5 linked regions of the Homo sapiens genome follow. The protein of the gene in region 1 interacts with the protein of each later gene in a biochemical or structural test. Each region holds a gene or a part of one and is shown in the gene's direction. Other genes may lie near its edges. The genes, in order: METTL3, EIF3M, MAPK14, MAPK8 and USP5.

What was found.
Region 2: the proteins of METTL3 (region 1) and EIF3M form a complex in vitro, tested with the Homo sapiens proteins (one study listed by BioGRID).
Region 3: of the proteins of METTL3 (region 1) and MAPK14, one has a biochemical effect on the other in vitro, tested with the Homo sapiens proteins (one study listed by BioGRID).
Region 4: of the proteins of METTL3 (region 1) and MAPK8, one has a biochemical effect on the other in vitro, tested with the Homo sapiens proteins (one study listed by BioGRID).
Region 5: of the proteins of METTL3 (region 1) and USP5, one has a biochemical effect on the other in vitro, tested with the Homo sapiens proteins (one study listed by BioGRID).

The regions. Positions count from the first base shown.
Region 1 is NC_000014.9:21,501,333-21,504,849, reverse strand, and holds part of METTL3 (N(6)-adenosine-methyltransferase catalytic subunit METTL3), read left to right. Parts: intron 1-968; coding exon 969-1,186; intron 1,187-1,272; coding exon 1,273-1,677; intron 1,678-2,946; coding exon 2,947-3,122; coding exon of another isoform or gene 3,123-3,141; exon of another isoform or gene 3,142-3,142; intron 3,143-3,517. UniProt on the Homo sapiens protein: The METTL3-METTL14 heterodimer forms a N6-methyltransferase complex that methylates adenosine residues at the N(6) position of some RNAs and regulates various processes such as the circadian clock, differentiation of embryonic and hematopoietic stem cells, cortical neurogenesis, response to DNA damage, differentiation of T-cells and primary miRNA processing.
Region 2 is NC_000011.10:32,593,815-32,597,331, forward strand, and holds part of EIF3M (eukaryotic translation initiation factor 3 subunit M), read left to right. Parts: intron 1-51; coding exon 52-135; intron 136-1,099; coding exon 1,100-1,199; intron 1,200-2,151; coding exon 2,152-2,233; intron 2,234-3,517. UniProt on the Homo sapiens protein: Component of the eukaryotic translation initiation factor 3 (eIF-3) complex, which is required for several steps in the initiation of protein synthesis.
Region 3 is NC_000006.12:36,076,308-36,079,824, forward strand, and holds part of MAPK14 (mitogen-activated protein kinase 14), read left to right. Parts: intron 1-229; coding exon 230-301; intron 302-1,527; exon of another isoform or gene 1,528-1,557; intron 1,558-3,517. UniProt on the Homo sapiens protein: Serine/threonine kinase which acts as an essential component of the MAP kinase signal transduction pathway.
Region 4 is NC_000010.11:48,435,677-48,439,877, forward strand, and holds the end of MAPK8 (mitogen-activated protein kinase 8), read left to right. Parts: 3' UTR 1-3,684; downstream 3,685-4,201. UniProt on the Homo sapiens protein: Serine/threonine-protein kinase involved in various processes such as cell proliferation, differentiation, migration, transformation and programmed cell death.
Region 5 is NC_000012.12:6,858,641-6,862,157, forward strand, and holds part of USP5 (ubiquitin carboxyl-terminal hydrolase 5), read left to right. Parts: intron 1-829; coding exon 830-901; intron 902-1,510; coding exon 1,511-1,598; intron 1,599-1,725; coding exon 1,726-1,851; intron 1,852-2,312; coding exon 2,313-2,466; intron 2,467-2,802; coding exon 2,803-2,977; intron 2,978-3,517. UniProt on the Homo sapiens protein: Deubiquitinating enzyme that participates in a wide range of cellular processes by specifically cleaving isopeptide bonds between ubiquitin and substrate proteins or ubiquitin itself.

The DNA.
Region 1 (3,517 bases):
TCCTCCTTCAGCCTCCCCAGTAGCTGGGATTATAACCTTGCATCACCACCCCCAGCTAAATTTTTTTTTTTTTTGTATTTTAGTAGAGATGGGGTTTCACCATGTTGGCCAGGCTGGTCTCGAACTCCTCACCTCAAGTGATCCACCCACCTTGGCCTCCCAGAGTGCTGGGATTACAGGCGTGAGCCCCAGTGCCTTACCAGAATGGAAATATTTAAGTAAACAAAATATTTCTAAATGTAAACTAATGGCCTACTTATTTAGCAATTTCAGTTCAGTTCTTAGGAGTTTAATATTTCATCTATATTTTAATTAACCACAGATATTAGGCTTTCTCAAAGATAACATTTTGTCCTAATTTTAGTTTCTCAAATCGTTATTAAGGTTATGATGGCAACCCAGCTTGTGAAGTAATAGATGATAATAATATAGTCAGGAAATATCATTTGGTAACCAAGGCTTCAGCAAAGTATTAAGATTTTTGTGTTTGTGAGTGTTATAGGTAACACTGTTGGCCCCCAACATTGTCATTTTGTACACTTTGTTGATCAGTGGCCTGAATTCATTAAAATTCACACTACATGCCTCAAAAAGAATATTGGATCCCAGCCTAGGTTGTTGAGTATATTCCTGTCCTTTATTAAAATGTAGGTTGATAGAAAGGTGGTAGGGATATTTAAATCTATCATGCTAATTTACTTTCTTTGTATCACAGCAAGGATAGGGAATTAGGAAAAGATTACTCACTCAATAGAGAAAAGGTAGATAGAAAATCCAGTATTATCTTGACAAAGCAGTGAATGTTTTAGTATGATTGAGGATAGGTAATCTAGTGCTAAAGTTGGTCACAGAATTTCCTGCACAAAATGAAAGATCTGTGTATGGGAATGCTAGAGAATTTGACTTCTCAGAAATATATAGACCAACAGTGGTTGCCTTTTTTCATTTTCACTTCTCTTCATTCTTAGATCTACGGAATCCAGAGGCAGCATTGTCTCCAACCTTCCGTAGTGACAGCCCAGTGCCTACTGCACCCACCTCTGGTGGCCCTAAGCCCAGCACAGCTTCAGCAGTTCCTGAATTAGCTACAGATCCTGAGTTAGAGAAGAAGTTGCTACACCACCTCTCTGATCTGGCCTTAACATTGCCCACTGATGCTGTGTCCATCTGTCTTGCCATCTCCACGGTAATGACCTGACAGAGTTAGGATTTACCACTTATTTTCAGTTCACGGTCAGTGTCTTATTGCCCATACCTCCCCTCGTTCTCTAGCCAGATGCTCCTGCCACTCAAGATGGGGTAGAAAGCCTCCTGCAGAAGTTTGCAGCTCAGGAGTTGATTGAGGTAAAGCGAGGTCTCCTACAAGATGATGCACATCCTACTCTTGTAACCTATGCTGACCATTCCAAGCTCTCTGCCATGATGGGTGCTGTGGCAGAAAAGAAGGGCCCTGGGGAGGTAGCAGGGACTGTCACAGGGCAGAAGCGGCGTGCAGAACAGGACTCGACTACAGTAGCTGCCTTTGCCAGTTCGTTAGTCTCTGGTCTGAACTCTTCAGCATCGGAACCAGCAAAGGAGCCAGCCAAGAAATCAAGGAAACATGCTGCCTCAGATGTTGATCTGGAGATAGAGAGCCTTCTGAACCAACAGTCCACTAAGGAACAACAGAGCAAGAAGGTAGGGGTCATGTGAAAATACTCTCACAATATGCTCTTAATTATAGCTTTGTTTGACAGGGATTTACCCCTAGGGCAAGGAACTGTTTACAGCAGTGGTTCTCAACTGGGGATGATTCCCTACTGCCCAACTCCCAGGGGATCTGGTAATGTCCGGAGACATTTTTATTGTCACACATGGGGGAGTGCTATTGGCATCTAGTGGGGGTAGAGGCCAGGGATGTTGTCAAACATCCTACAGTGCATAGTGGGACAAACCCCCACAACAAACAGTTGTCTGTCCCAAAGTGTCAACAATGCCAATGTCGACAAATTCTTATTTAGATAATCTGTCACTGAATCTGAAAGAATTGGATCAAGAGAAGAGGAATCCAAATATATAGAAATATAGGGAGATGAATGGAGAGGAATACTAGACCAATTATGGAAATTGACTAAATAATGTGAATTGGTTCTGAGTATAAGCATTGGCCTGACATGAGTTCTTATCTGTTTGGTACTTCTAGTGCGTGAGTTTGAACAAGTTAATTAACTTCTCTTGAGCCTTAGTCTTCTCATCTGTAACATGAAGATAATACCAGCGTATCCTGCCTTATAGAATTGAATAGACTCTGAGCTAAAAAGTAAAGTGTTTAGCACTATACTTTTTAGTTCAGCACCCAGTAAATATGTTTTTTGTAGAAGGAATGCCTTCCTGGGGAGGGGATGTTAACATAATGCTTAGCGGTAGGAACCAGGCCTCTTCCATTTTAATTTCATCCCAAATGCATATTTGTGAGGAAGGACTGAACCCCTAACAAATCTCTTATCTGAAGGCTCCAATTTTCCAATATTAAGTTAGCTAATTTAGGTCTAGGCACAATGGCTCATTCCTGTAATCTCAACACTTTGGGAGGCCAAGGCGCGAGGATCACCTGAGGCGAGGAGTTCAAGACCGGCCTGGGCAACATAGACCCTATCCCTATAGAAAGTAAAGTAATTAAAACATTAGCTGGCATGGTGTCACGCACCTATATTCCCAGCTACAATTGAAGGCTGAGCTGGGAGGATCACTTGAGCCTGGGAGTTCAGTGGGAGAAACAGTGAGTTATGATTACACAACTACACTCTGGCCTGGGTGACAGCAAGATCCCATCTCTTAAAAAAAAAAAAAAAAAAAAAGTTGATTTATCTCTTAGAAGACATTAATGTCAAAAAGAATTTGCGGAGTTGGTCTAAGAGCCAATTTGATCTATAAGACATTTTAAGTCCAAGGCTACTTCTGTCACAGGTCAGTCAGGAGATCCTAGAGCTATTAAATACTACAACAGCCAAGGAACAATCCATTGTTGAAAAATTTCGCTCTCGAGGTCGGGCCCAAGTGCAAGAATTCTGTGACTATGGAACCAAGGAGGAGTGCATGAAAGCCAGTGATGCTGATCGACCCTGTCGCAAGCTGCACTTCAGGTCTCTTGGAAGGGAATGAGGTGGGATGGGTTTGTCAGAAGCAGCCATTCCTTTTCAGCATATTCCTTCCAGTCATTGGGGTTCTGTCTGTAATCTTATTTAGTTTATGGTTTGTGTAAGTCCTCCAGACCCTGAAGGTGTACTTTCAGAAGTGCATTGTGTGGGAAGAATACAGGCTGTACTCCCAAATAACTGAGATTTTTTTTTTAAAAGCTCCCTCCCTCTTAGAATAGCAAAGTATGTCTGTCTCTGAGCCACAGTGAAAGTTAAAGTACTCTGAAAGGAGGATAATCTTAGGAGAAAAGGAACCTAAACTCTTAGGTCAGTGTTTTATTCTGTTCTACCCAAGTCTCCTGCACTGCTTGCCTTCCAGTGGTAAAACAGGAAACCAAGTC
Region 2 (3,517 bases), on another chromosome or scaffold:
GAATGAATAGCAGTAATGCTTTCAAGTTCCTAAAGCAATATTTCTTTTTAGTGATGCTGCTTCAAAAGTCATGGTGGAATTGCTCGGAAGTTACACAGAGGACAATGCTTCCCAGGCTCGAGTTGATGCCCACAGGTAATGTTAAACGTTACTCTGATGAGGGTTTGACAGCGATGTAGAGGTAAGCTACAATATTAAATTAAGTAACTGAAATCATGTTTGCAACTACCAGTGATCCAGAGCCATTTGATAGTGTGTATTTCCTGGTGATTCTAATGTAGATACTAAAATTCAAGGTTTGATATTGGAAGAACTGTGGATTGAATATGAAGTAGCTGCATGGCGTTTACCTGGCGGGGGGGGTATTGCTGGTATGGGGATGATGATCCCAACCCAAGAATTAGAACCTAATCTTGGGCCAATTGACCCTAATTTTAAGGTTATAGGTGGAAAGTTGATGGCTTGCCAAAAATTAACCCATTGCTAATGAGTATAAGGGCTTTTAACAGTCTTAGATCTAACTGGTAACAAGAATAGAATCAGTTTTCTAAATCTATGTAATAAGGATTATGAAACTTCTTTTTTTGGTCATTGCTTTGTGTGGACCTCTACATGATAGGAGTTGGTAAAAAGGGAAGTTGGTGGTAAAGATCCTTGACTTTGAGGTCAGGCTGCCTCCATTCACATTCTTACTCCACCTCTTAATGAGCACTTCTGAACTGCTTCATAGTTGATAAAGGGGGCAGAGTAATACTGTTTGTCTCCTAGGTTGTTGTGAGGAATAAATGAGATGTAAGGCAAGTGAAGCACTTAGTGTCTTGGCATGTGGTTCTGCTGCTGCTTACTATTTGATTACCTTGGTGCTTTCTCTCCAGCTATGTTTTTATCTACAATTAATATATTTCATTTTGTTAAAACAGATGAACCTGATAAATGTGTTGGCCTGTCTTAACCCAATCCTGTAGCTTTTTTAATGTTGTTTATATGTTTTGGACTGTTAGATATTTTGCCGAATTAAGTATATTTTATGATCTGCAAAAACTCAATGAAAAGCCAGGATTTCAAAACCCTGAGCTTACATTTTTGTTCTCTAATTAAGGTGTATTGTACGAGCATTGAAAGATCCAAATGCATTTCTTTTTGACCACCTTCTTACTTTAAAACCAGTCAAGTTTTTGGAAGGCGAGCTTATTCATGATGTAAGTAGTTTATCCTTTAATGTGAAAAATGTTCTCCTTTCCTAAATTTTACATACTGAAGCAGGACTCTTTTTCTTTGCATTAATAAAAGTGACTAATGGCAAGATATGGAAAGATTAAGAACTATGTATTCTTTTTATATCAGGAACAGACATATTTAGGACCAGCTTTTCTTCATCCACTGAGCAGAGTCCTATTCTTCCTCCCTTTCTTAATTTCTTTTTTTTTTTTGAGACTGAGTCTCACTCTGTCACCAGGCTGGAGTGCGGTGGCATGATCTTGGCTCACTGCAACCTCTGCCTCCCTGATTTAAGCAATTCTCCTGCCTCAGCTTCCAGGAGAAGTAGCTGGGATTACAGGCACATGCCATCAGGCCCAGCTAATTTTTGTATTTTTAGTAGATACAGAGTTTTGCCATGTTGGTCTGGTCTCCGACTCCTGACCCCCCTGACCCCAAATGATCTGCCCACTTCGGCCTCCCAGAGTGCTGGGATTACAGGCGTGAGCCACTGTGCCCGGCTACCTCCCTTTCTTTCATCTTCTCACTTACTCATCATTATAGACTTAGATAATACAAGTTTCTTTTTTATTACATATATATTGTTCCTAGCCCCACTTAGGAATATAAGTCTGATATTTAAAAACACATGAACATTTTTCAAATGCAAGTATAAATATATTTTGGACTGTTGTGCATCTGGACTATGCCATTAGCCATCATCTTTCAGTGTGGATAATTTAGAGCTCAGTGTATTTACTGATTATTTCATTTTAAAAGTGAGCCATGTGAAAGCAGATGGTTTGGTAATTTGATGAAACAGAATGATATTTCTGCCTTGAACAAAATGTAGGAGTCAGTATCTTTAAAATAATATTTACAATATCTTAGAATATCTTACAATAAATCTGAATTCTGTATTGATGGTATCTTTTTTGTCTCTTATCTGTATAGCTTTTAACCATTTTTGTGAGTGCTAAATTGGCATCATATGTCAAGTTTTATCAGAATAATAAAGACTTCATTGATTCACTTGGTAAGTTTTGGGGTTTATTCTTTGAGGCACAGAGGTGGGAACATGATACACTAACAGTTATGTACTATGTGTTCCAGCAAGTATGGCTGTGGCCTTATTTGTAGATTATCCTAAAAGGAGTCGTGTATGATAGAACAGCACAAAAATAGGTAGACAGTTTAAAATATTACTTAGAATGAATTGAGAATCAGAAACCAAGAAGGTGTAGGAGGTGGCATTTGTGATAGAAAGAGAATGAAACTGGGAGTATGAAAACAACTCGGGGCCCAGCGCGGTGGCTTAGAGGTATAATCCCAGCACTTTGGAGGCCGAGGCGGGCGGATCACGAGGTCAGGAGGTCGAGACCATCTTGGCTGACTAACATGGTGAAACCCTGTCTCTACTAAAAATACAAAAAATTAGCCGGGCGCGGTGGCGGGTGCCCGTAGTCCCAGCTACTTGAGAGGCTGAGGCAGGAGAATAGCTTGAACCCGGGAGATGGAGGCGGAGGTTGCAGTGAGCCAAGACTGTGCCACTGCACTCCAGCCTCGGCAACAGAGCAAGAGTCTGTCTCAAAAAAAAAAAAAAAAAAAAGAAAGAAAAGAAAACAACTTAGCACTTGTAATCCCAGCACTTTGGGAGGATGAGGTGGGTGGATCACTTGAGGTCAGGAGTTCAAGACCAGCCTGGCCAACATGGCAAAACCCCATTTCTACTAAAAATACAAAAATTAGTGGGCATGGTGGCACATACCTGTAGTGCCAACTACTCAGGAGCCTTAGGCAAGAGAACCACTTGAACCCGGGAGGCAGAGGTTGCAGTGAGTTCAGATCACACTGCTGCACTCCAGCCTGGATGACAGAGTGAGGCTCCATCTCAAAAAACAAAAAAAAAAGAGAGAGAAAATGACTTGGAACCTTTTTGTCTCATTTAAGAGCTTGCTGAACTTTAGGCCCTTCCAGCTCTTCTGTACCATGATTCTTTGAGGTAAAGTTATATCAACAATCGGGTGTTTGGAGAAGATTGAAGAAATAGTTCCATTGGTACATTTGTTTTTAAAATTTAGAGATGGAGGAGTGAGCAGAAAAGCAACTGAAAGAATTACCATTACTTTGATCATAATGGTAACTTTCAGAAATGTTTTAAGAGCTGATAAAATTTGATGATTAAAGGTACTTTATTAAGCTAAACATTATTCTTAAAATAATATTGTTTCTTTGTAGAAGACTTTATTCCTTAGATATATGGTGATTTGTATTTTTGGTCCCTTTTTTTAAGCCATAGCCACAGAATGGTAACAAATAG
Region 3 (3,517 bases), on another chromosome or scaffold:
CAGCTTATTTCTCTTAAGTGTGTTTTGACTTACCCCACCTTTGAACAGCCCTTTAGTCAGGTGAAGATCTTAGTAAGCTATTTATTTCTGTAAAAATGAGTATGATTGTTGAGCCTCAGATGTCTTAAATAGTAATTTGAATATTTCACCCCTAGTTACGGTTTCATTTGTTGCCAAGAATTGTAACAGTGACATTGCATATACTTTTACTTCTTTTTAATTTTGCCAGTTGATATTTGGTCAGTGGGATGCATAATGGCCGAGCTGTTGACTGGAAGAACATTGTTTCCTGGTACAGACCGTATCCTTTAAAAAGTTTTGGATTCTTGTTTCTTATCTGTATTCCAGTGTCCATGGGTGTATACTCCTTTTACTTATCTCTAGGGAAGACTCTCAGTATTTTGCTTTTATAGTCTAGATAATGCATTATGAGGTCTTTCTTCAAACTGAGTAGCTTGCCTTGCCAAGAAAGAGGCTTCAGTTTACTTTTGTGAGTTGGAAAAATTCCTCATAAGTTGAAAAACCCATCAAGTCTGTCTTCTTTTTGCAACAGTCCCTTATTAATCATCCCACAGCAGTTCTGAGACCTGAGCATACTCATGAGAAACTCCAGATCCCAGTGACAGTTTTAGTCTTCTTGTATAAACACTTAATGAGCACAAGATGCCCATTTATAAATGAAGGGCATCTTGCTGTTATGTTTATGTATTAAAAGGGCTATGTTTGGTACCTGCAGTGATATACTGCTTACTTGTTATGTTTGTTGTTTGACAACAAATAGTAAAAGCAAGAAGTGAAAAGCTTACCATGTAATGTACTTTTGTTTTTCCAGCACAACTTTTTCCCAGATTGCAGCCAAACCCTAATTTACTCCAAGACTTACTGTCTAGTTTATGGTTTATTATAGCCCCTTTATTTTAGCTCCTTTCCTATCTGCGGTATGCTTGTTTCATGGTTTAGTATTAATGTCATGAAAAATGTGGTCTGTTGGAACTCTCATCAGTTCTACTTATGGAAGATGTTTAGGTGAGAAAGATTGTTAAAATATATGTCTAGAATTAGTTTTGGGGATTTTTTCTTTTTTTAATAGAATTGAGTTAACTAGCCTTCAGGTGGTTTTGGTTAGGCAATATTAGACATGCTACCTCTGATCTATTATGCCTAGAGATCTAAAAGCCATTTTAGTCCCTTACCTAAATAAACTAATTGAGTTTATAAACCAGAATGTCAATTCACTTGCTTACAGTTTGGGATATACTTCTGTAATGGCTATGATGTTCATGATATCTACCCACGTGTTCTAACTATCTTCTGCTAGAGAGAATGTACTTTCATTATGAACTGAAAAAACCTCTATTTCTCAGGTAAAGCTGTTTCTTTCTCTCTGAATATTAGGATTGATAACAGAGTTCAGTCTCCCTGTATTTAGCTTACCTTATTACTCCCTACCTCTGGATTTTAAATTAGTTTAATACCTGGTGTTTCTCCTTTGTCCTTTGTTTCATTCACCTTATATCTGTTTCTCAGAAATTTGGTATATATATATTACAGTCCAAGGTAAGAGAATTAGGGAAAATTCATACTTCCCCCTTTCCTCAGGTACATATCTCAGAGTCCCATCCTTGCTTTGTCCTCTAGAGTAGCTGCTGTCCTGATGCTATTCTCTGTTCCCTGCTCCCCTTCCTCTTCTTGTGTCTGTATCTCCAGCTACCATTTAGTCAGTCACAGACCTCCATGCCGGTGTAGACACACAAGGTGGCAGAGAGGGAAAGGCAGTATAACATACAGGTTAAGCACATGCTCTGGAGCCAGATTTCCTGGATTTAGATCTTAGCTCTTTTATTTCCAGCTATGTAACTTTGAGTAAGTTTCCTAACCTCTATTTCTCTCAGTTTCCTTAACCGTAAAATGATAATAATCATACATACTCACAAGGTTGTCGTAAGAATTCAGCCAGAAAATAACTGGAAAGTACTGAGACGAGCCTGCCAGTAAATGTTAGCCATCATGTTCAGTAATGGCCTTGCAAAACAGATTACCCCTTCACCTTCTCACTTAATTGTCTACCTATGAATCATTAATGTTTTGTTTTGTTTTTAATTCTGTGATAGGTAGGAAAGGATGGAACTCCTTGGCAGACTAGTGTTAGAAAGTTTTCGAAGCAGTGTGAGTCTTGTACCTTTGTGGTCCTGTCTCACAGACACCTGTCTATTCCCTGACCCTTTTAAATGCTAACTTTCTGCCTGTAGGAAATCTTCCCTTTGTGCTTAGGTCTTTTTCTTCTGTGAGCTTTAGATAAACAACCTAGTGTTTAAACTTTTTAATAAGGGATTCATTTTTTAATACATGAGAATTCATTTCAAAATTTTGGTTTTAGTTATTTATTTTATTCTACTTGGCTCTTTTTCAGACAGATGTTCTCTCCTGGATTGTAAAAGTCGAATTCAAAGGATTTTTATTTGTAATATACTTAACCTTTCTCTTGTAAGTTGCCATCTGTGTAGATACAGCTTTGATTGCCTGACAAGAGGAAAATGTTTCCCATTATCTTTTCCTGCCTGAACTATACGGTCACTTGTGTTCCAGCATAGTGGTTCTTAACCCTCATAGTGTGTCAGAATCACTTTGCAGAGCTTTTAAAAACTCTAGATGCCTGGGGACCACCCCAAAGACTCCATTTTGTTGTCATGGGTCAAAGCACAGTCTTCTAGTTTGCAGCTAGTGTTGAGTACAACTAGAGTTTAACCCAGTTGAATTTTAGTTTAATCTTGGCTGGTCTTGAAGATGTTAGTAATCTCTATTCATTTTTTTTGAAAAGTACCAATGAGATCAGAAAGTTAATTAGAAAACATCTAGTTGAATCCCCTGTTTTTAATAGATGGGGAAACCAAGACCCAGAGAATATAATCCAAAGCTACCTGTCACATAGGCCACAATTTCTTTTCCAATATTCTGTTCTTCGCTGTTCTTCTAATTTGCAGAACTCCTCTTTAAAAAACCTTTGGAGAATGTATTGGCCTCATACCCTCTTCCTTCAGCCTGAAAGACATGCACCTGTCACTTATTTATGATATTTAAATGCAACCTCTAGAACAGGGGTGTCCAATCTTCTGGCTTCCCTGGGCCACATTGGAAGAAGAAATGTCCTGGGCCACACATAAAATACACTAATGATAGCCGATGAACTTAAAAAAAATTGCAAAAAAAAAATCTCGTAATGTTTTCAGAAAGTTTACAAATTTGTGATGGGCTGCATCCAAAGCCCTGGGCCACGTGCAGCCCGCAGGCCCTGGGTTGGAAAAGCTTGCTCTAGAAGGTACTCATTGTTTGAGTGTCCAGTTTTCTCCCTGTTTTCCTTATTTATTGATCATTTTGCATTTGGAATTGGTGGTTTGGGCTTGTAAGTAAGAACTGTGTACTAGAACTTTTGTGGTATTGCAAATGTTTTATATCTGTGCTATCCAATGTGGTGGTTATAGGCACCAGCTGCCTGTGGCTAATTATTAAGCAACTGAAA
Region 4 (4,201 bases), on another chromosome or scaffold:
AGAATAACTCAGAGCATGTCTTTGAAGATGCTGGGCGTCTACCACCACCTTATGTCCCCACCCTACCCAACAAAAATAAGTAAAAAGAATATGGTGTATTCTACAAATTTGTGGCATGCTCAAAGTTTATGATCACATAAAGGCAAGAGGATACTTCATGAATAATACATTTCAATGCAAATAAACAGATGGTTCACTTCTACTAGCTATGAGCCTGTTTTTGTATACACTGAGTTAATCTACTCAGGCTGTAGGTCCCAGCAATGTTCTAGAGTCTGGTCTTTCCCTTTCCTGCAGCTTCGGGTCCTTGGACCTTTCCTGTTTCCTATTACTTGGAGTGTCTGTCAGTTGAGCACCAGTTGTTCTGGTGTTTCATTTGATTCTACTTGTAGCATAATCATTTATACGAGCTATTGGGAGGTTCCAAACCCTACCTAGATTTGTGTAGGTGATGTATCAAATGAGCAATATACCGTTCATCTGAAAATAGTAGCACACAGCCATATATAGGATATCATTTTCTAAGGACTGTTTCTTCACATTGAGCAGAGCAGGCATAAATGGTGGTTATTTAGTCTAAGTCTTTTATTTTTTTATACCTGATTTTCAACATAACACGCAATGTGGATGTCGAGTAGTGTTAAGAATGGTGCTGCTCCTGACAAGTGTATGTTAACTGTTTACATTTTCTATCTGTAGAATTATTTCTCTATTACTGAACTTTTCCTAAGTAAAATGTCTTTGAAGTCTCGTTATTTCTGAAATACGTTGTCTGTAATAGACCCAGGCACCTTTTAAATTATCTCTGGAACAAGAGGGATTTCATGTAATGAACTAGGAAATGCATACTCACATAAGCAACAAGGTTCTAGGCAGAAAGCCCCTTGGAATTTGTGACCAACAGGAGCAAGAACAGGTGCGGCTCAACATGCAATGTCTGAAAATTTGCTTGGCATTTTATTCATATATTTAGTGCAAAATTATTTTTGAGTGAGATATTTTACATCACTGTTAATGTGCAATATTTAAGATTAAAATACATTAGCTTTTTTATATACTTTGAAGTAGCAAGTTTGTTTTCGATGGCTTAGAGTCATGATTTCCAGCTTCCCAGCCTTTTTATCAGTCCCTTTTCTAATACAACAAGGTGCATTAATTTGATTAGGCAAATTAGAGTTCTAAGACACTTCTTGAATTGTAGACAGAAAATATTGGATTCACAATTTCAGCAGAAATTTGAGAATGAGTGTGTTTATATTAATTTCACAATTAGCTGTATTTTCTGTAGCATAGATTATGTCACTGTTGCACTTTCACAGCAGACATGCTTTCAGAAGGTTCTCATATTTTATGTTTGATTGCTGATAAGCCATCTCTATTGATACAGATTTTGGTTAAGTAAGGAAAACCAGGTGTGTGTCTGTATCATTTATTGTAAATGCCAGCTGCCACTTGCCAACCATCATGTTCAGTTCAATTCAAAGAAAACAAACTCTCATTACTTAGTGTAAACTAAAATACTTAACAAATTATATCCTAAAAACAAGGTCTCTTTGTTAAATGTTGCATGCCCTAGGTTTTAAATTACTACATCCAAATACAGTTTTCGTCTTAAATTTGTTAAGCTAAATATATGTTGGTTCTTTTTATTTTGGAATCCTTTAAGCATCTTAAACATTTTTTTTTTGAAGAGAAGTTACAAATAACATTTCTATCAGGTAGTACTTGTATGAAACCACCTTTCTTATTCTATAATTTTGATTTTTCAATTTTATATACTTAATATACTCACTGTCTTACTATCAGAAAGTTATTTTGACCAAGATTTTTATTATCTTCATAGATTCAGAAAGAGATGCTAATTCTGTACCAATGTCTTCCTGGTTACTATTCTCTTCCCTCTAATATATACTGGCCATTTGTAAAACCATTGTGTTGTTGGGATCACTTAGTTATACTATACGCAGATAGAGCATCTCAACTCTGTCATAGTGTTTGCTGAACAGTTTTCAGTGTCATGCACCTTTGGCTGCTAATTGTTCCTGACGTGCACTCTTCCGAGTTGGTAAAGGCACAGTGTGTTCATGCCAGACTTCTAAGAGAAACACCAGCCTCTTAAATCAGAAGCCTACACACAACCCCCTTAACAATCCAAAGAAGCTTGATGGTGTGCAAAGAAGCATCCTGCCAGCCTTGTCATTGTTCTGTTCTATGCTAATCCTGCTGTGTTGTCTAAAAGATGGAGGGAAGAGGACATCAGTGTCTGATAGTGAAATCATCAGCAGGAAAGTGAAGCTCTTTCCTTGGTTACAGATAAGACTTGGTTTACACTATTGGCCAGTATCTGCTAAACATATGAAGACTTAACTATTCAGTGTTGCCTAGGCATTCGCCTGCACAACATTTTGAGGTTAGAACATAGAATATTTTCAGAAATACTGTTGTAGTTTGTGAGTGTTGTTCATTAGTTACACATTAGCTATAGAGTGGATGCATGAAGCCCCATGACACCAGTAAACTTCTCTTACCAGTAGGTAAACCAAACACCATTCTGTCATTAGCAGCCCTCTTAAATGTTGCCTCTCCGTATCCTGTTGCATTTTTGTGTGCATTGTGTTTCTACTGATCTCTCTTAGGTTTTTACGGAATCAAAGGAAACTAATTTTTCCTTAATAGCAAGAAAGATGAAGAGGTAAAGGGCATTGAAGCAGAAATGTATAGTTTGGGGTACGATTAGAAAACTCGTAAGGAAAACAGAAGTCCTAATTTCAAACTGACTGCTCTTCGTTAAGTGCTCTTAAGGAGAGTCTAGTAACAGTAACACTTTCTGGCCATTTCTAGTTTAGATTCTCTTCGTTACTGAAACTTTTGAGAAATATTACCTGTGGATTAATTTTGCACAATGTTCTATTCTCATAATGACTTACAAATTAAACTAGGTTTTTATTGAACTACCTCACACTAATTTTCTATGCTTTCCCAAGTAAGCTGTTGCCCTGTTAGATCTTTACTGAGTGAATTATAAATGTGTGTTAAATACTTTCTAGCCAATGTTGACACAATACCAGTAAGTATGTAAAGTATATACCTTACATCAGTAAGAGACACGTGTAAAATCTTTGACTGTATGTCTTGCAAAATTGTGCTCGTTGACATTATTACTGTTTTTGTAAGTAGAAACCTGCTCGTGATATCGGTCCATTTACATTTTACAAAAGGAGTAAATCTTAGTAAAAATTTTACGAAGAAATAAATTACTTTTGTAGGCCCAATATTTGGTATATTTTTGAGAAGCTGTTAATCTTTTAGCTGAATAATGAAGTTAGACTGAATTACGTGTCTCCCTGGACTGTGACATCTATTTTCTCATTACAGTTTATCCTGGTCAGCAGGGTGTCACACCTGGAAACCTGAGTATGATAGCTGACATTTGCTTTTCTCCCTCTGCGATGTCATTCCTCCTCCATTCCTCTCCTTCCCTGTGTTCCGTTCCCTCTCCTTTCCTCTAGACAAAACAAAATGGGGCACTTTTTAGGGAATGCTGAGATCATTATTGTGGTTTTTCATCATTCATGCCCTAGTCATTAAACATGCACCACTGGAATGTAAACAATGTTATCTAGTATGTCAATTGGTTATAATATTTTAAATAAAAAAGAAAAAAGTGGTATGAAAATTATGAAATTAAGAGTTTTTTCATTGAAAACAAAATCTGTTTGTGGTAAAGTTTTTCTTGGCAATTTTAGGATTGTCCGTGGATTGGGATAAAAGGGGTCTTGCTAGGGCCGGTTTCTTAGATTTGGATTTTGTACAGATTGTAAAGAGCCTAAATGATCACGCTGATTATCTGGTTGATCTGGTCTTGGATTTCTGGTGTTTGAAATTGCTGGATAAACTTTATCTAAAAAAGGAACTTTGCTTCAATGCCCTTAACCTAGTTCTTGGTAGACATATGAGAGAACAGCCATCGTGACCACTTGGCAAAAATAAGTACTTAAAATTGGGGTCTGTTTCAAAACAAGCAAGAGGTTTTAGCTTTGACTGTTTCCAACTTTTGCCATGCTTATTTCCTCTTTGCCTACGTTGGGTCTGCTGCTGTGTGGGAATACAGGGTCCCTGCAGTACCTTCCCAGCCACTGTAATGACGCCACTCCGTCTTGCACAGTTCCTGCTCCAAATGACCTTTGTACCGTGCTGTCTG
Region 5 (3,517 bases), on another chromosome or scaffold:
CAGGCCCCCTCCTGGTCAGCACCCTCTGGGCATACTCCTCCTTCAGCTTCCCTCAGCACCTCTGTGTTTGATTCTAGTCTTAGAGTAGTTCCTATCGGCTGGGTGTGTTGGCCCACACCCGTAATCCCAGTACTTCGGGAGGCCAAGATGGGAGAATTGCTTGAGCCCAGGAGGTTGAGACCAGCCTGGGCAACATAGCGAGACCCTGTCTTCTCTTAAAAAAAAAAAAGAATAATTCCTGTCACACTCTGGCTGACATGCTGTGAGGGGAGCAAGTTAGGGAGCTGCACCACCAGCACCCCAACACACAAACCCCACTGATAGTGCAGAGTGCCAAGTCCCAGGGCTCTGTGGCCTTCTGACAGACTCAAGGGTTAGCAGGTGGTCTTTATTTTAGGGCAGTGACATCAGATGAGCACCTAACATGGACATGTAGCACTTGGGGAGGAGGGGGGCTTGGCACACTAAGAATAAAGGCAGGTTCTCAGCAGAAATGAGTTTACTTTCGAATTTGGGGAACAATTAGAATGTGAATGCTCAGAACATGTCAACAGGTTCTGTCCAATAGAACGTGAACTGCACTTATCCTAATCCCAGGCTACCTTCCCCCTCCCCGGCTCCTCTGCCGCCGAGCGTGCTTGCACATTGGACATAGCTGAGAAGGGGAGAACAGGCAGGTTGCTGGAGAGAAGCGACTCCAAGGTTCACCCACAGCAACTCCCCACTCTTGAGGGGAGCCCGTTCACAGAGTTAGTAAATGTTTGCTTCCTTCCCTTTTCCTCGGCGCTCAGGCCAGAGCCCCTCCAACTGTCCTTCCCTTGACTTTTAGGTATGTGGATAAGCTGGAGAAGATCTTCCAGAATGCCCCGACGGACCCTACCCAGGATTTCAGCACCCAGGTGTATGTAACCAGGTCCTATGTAGGAAAGCTGTTGACAGTCATGGCCGTATACCTTCCTCCTCCCTGACCGCCTGGGGGGCACAGCACTTTAACCCCTGGCCTTTTTTTGTTTTGTTTTGTTTTGTTTTTTGAGACGGAGTCTTGTTCTGTTGCCAGGCTGGAGTGCAGTGGCGCGATCTCGGCTCACTACAACCTCTGCCTCCTGGGTTCAAGTGATTCTCCTGCCTCAGTCTCCTGAGTAGCTAGGACTACAGGCACATGCCACCACGCCCAGCTAAATTTTTTTTGTATTTTTAGTAGAGACGGGGTTTCATCATGTTGGCCAGGATGGTCTCGATCTCCTGACCTCGTGGTCTGCCCACCTCGGCCTCCCAAAGTGCTGGGATTACAGGCGTGAGCCACCGTGCACGGCCACCACTGGCCTATTAGGAGCATTCGGGTGACTGTCTTCTGGACGTGTTGTCTGTCTTGAGCTGGGTTCCTGTAGAATCTAAGGTTTTTCACGTTGTTGAGAGTTAGCTAGGGAGAGCCACGAGCAGGGGGTTGAGCTGGGGACACACAGGGTCGTTAGTTGACTGAAGTGAAATGTTTTCTTGGATATTAATGCAGGGCCAAGCTGGGCCATGGCCTTCTCTCCGGGGAGTATTCCAAGCCAGTACCGGAGTCGGGCGATGGGGAGCGGGTGCCAGAACAGAAGGTGCGTCTAGGACCCTGTCCCTTTCAGGCCCTGGGATTGTGGGGAAGCTGAGGTCTGGGAGATGTCTAAAGAAGGCCCCTGGATGGCCACTGAGCCCCAGCTGAGTCCCTGCCCTGACTCTTCCCAGGAAGTTCAAGATGGCATTGCCCCTCGGATGTTCAAGGCCCTCATCGGCAAGGGCCACCCTGAATTCTCCACCAACCGGCAGCAGGATGCCCAGGAGTTCTTCCTTCACCTTATCAACATGGTGGAGGTAAGGGCTGGCAAGATGGCACACCCCCATCTTCCTGCAATTTACTCGCTCTCCTTCCTGCCCATTTCTCCCTCTATCAGCCCCAACCCAGTCCCATCCCTGAACCCCAACAGTCTGTGTCCCTGTGAACAGTGCTTGCACCTGAGGAGGACAGTGAAGGTGATGATCCCTACCCTTGATGGGCTTGAAGCCCAATTCAGATTATGCCCAAAGACAATGATAAGAGAATACTTGCTGCTTATAAAGAAAAATACAAGCGTGTTCTAACACAGTCCCTCAGTGCAGGGATGGGGCCAGAAATGGGGAGGGGTTGGTGAATTAGGGAAGGTTTCTGCTCTGCTCTTGTGTCCCTGAGTTCCGAGTGGTAGTCTGCCTTCTCTCCCTGACTCTCCCATGAACCTTTCAGGCCCCATTCTGTTCCCTGGCTGCCCAGACCTCCCTACCCTGCCTCTTTCCCATAGAGGAATTGCCGGAGCTCTGAAAATCCTAATGAAGTGTTCCGCTTCTTGGTGGAGGAAAAGATCAAGTGCCTGGCCACAGAGAAGGTGAAGTACACCCAGCGAGTTGACTACATCATGCAGCTGCCTGTGCCCATGGATGCAGCCCTTAACAAAGGTAGGCTGCTCCATCAGCAAGGCCGTGGCACGGTGGGAGGCTAAGGTCTAGGAGGAATGCTTGGGCACCTCATGGGAGCACAGCCCAGGGAATGCCCTGCTTCACCAGCCAAGGTTCCAGTCTGGGCCACCAGGAGTAGGTAGATTAACCTCGTCCAGTGGACACTCAGCTTGTTAGCAGAGCTGCATGGAAACAGGCGAGATATATTGGACATGTGTCAGGGGTGCTTTGGAAGGGTAGAGGAACTGAAATACGGACACAGAGCCAGTAGGGAGAGGCTAAGGAGGCAAAGAAGCAGCACCCTCCGAAGGATCCACCAACCCATTCTGTCACCAGAGGAGCTTCTGGAGTACGAGGAGAAGAAGCGGCAAGCCGAAGAGGAGAAGATGGCACTGCCAGAACTGGTTCGGGCCCAGGTGCCCTTCAGCTCTTGCCTGGAGGCCTACGGGGCCCCTGAGCAGGTCGATGACTTCTGGAGCACGGCCCTGCAGGCCAAGTCAGTAGCTGTCAAGTAAGTCCTCTGGTCGGGGCCTGAGGCTGTGGGTCTATGGCAGAGCTATCCCAGAGGATACTTCTGTCTCTTCCCTGTTCTTTCATCCCTTTGTGGTTGGAACCTCAGGGTTGAATCAGTTGGGCTGGTAATCTGGCCCTGATGGAACCAAGGGGCCCTGGTAGGGGGGACACGGGTACTGACTCTATCTGTCACCTTGTCCTGCCCCAACCACTCCCTCTTCTGTGGCACAGGGTCTCTTTGTAGTGTAGCCTCTCTTCATTGCCCCTCAGTCATGGCTGAGCACAGGCACTTAGGATCAGCTGTGGGCAGAATTTGGATTTCCAGCAAATAGCCACACTTTGAGCCTAGCCATTGGCACCTGGCATGGGTGTGAGACCTGAAAAAGGGCTTTGGTCTCGGGGAGTCAGCTACCCAGCCCTTTGCTGCTCCTGCCAGTGAAACAGCTCTTCCTCTCTGTGTGGGTTTTTTTTTTTTTTCTATGTGTGGGTCTTGCTATGTTTTTTTCCCTACGTGTGGGTCTTGCTATGTTGCCCAGGT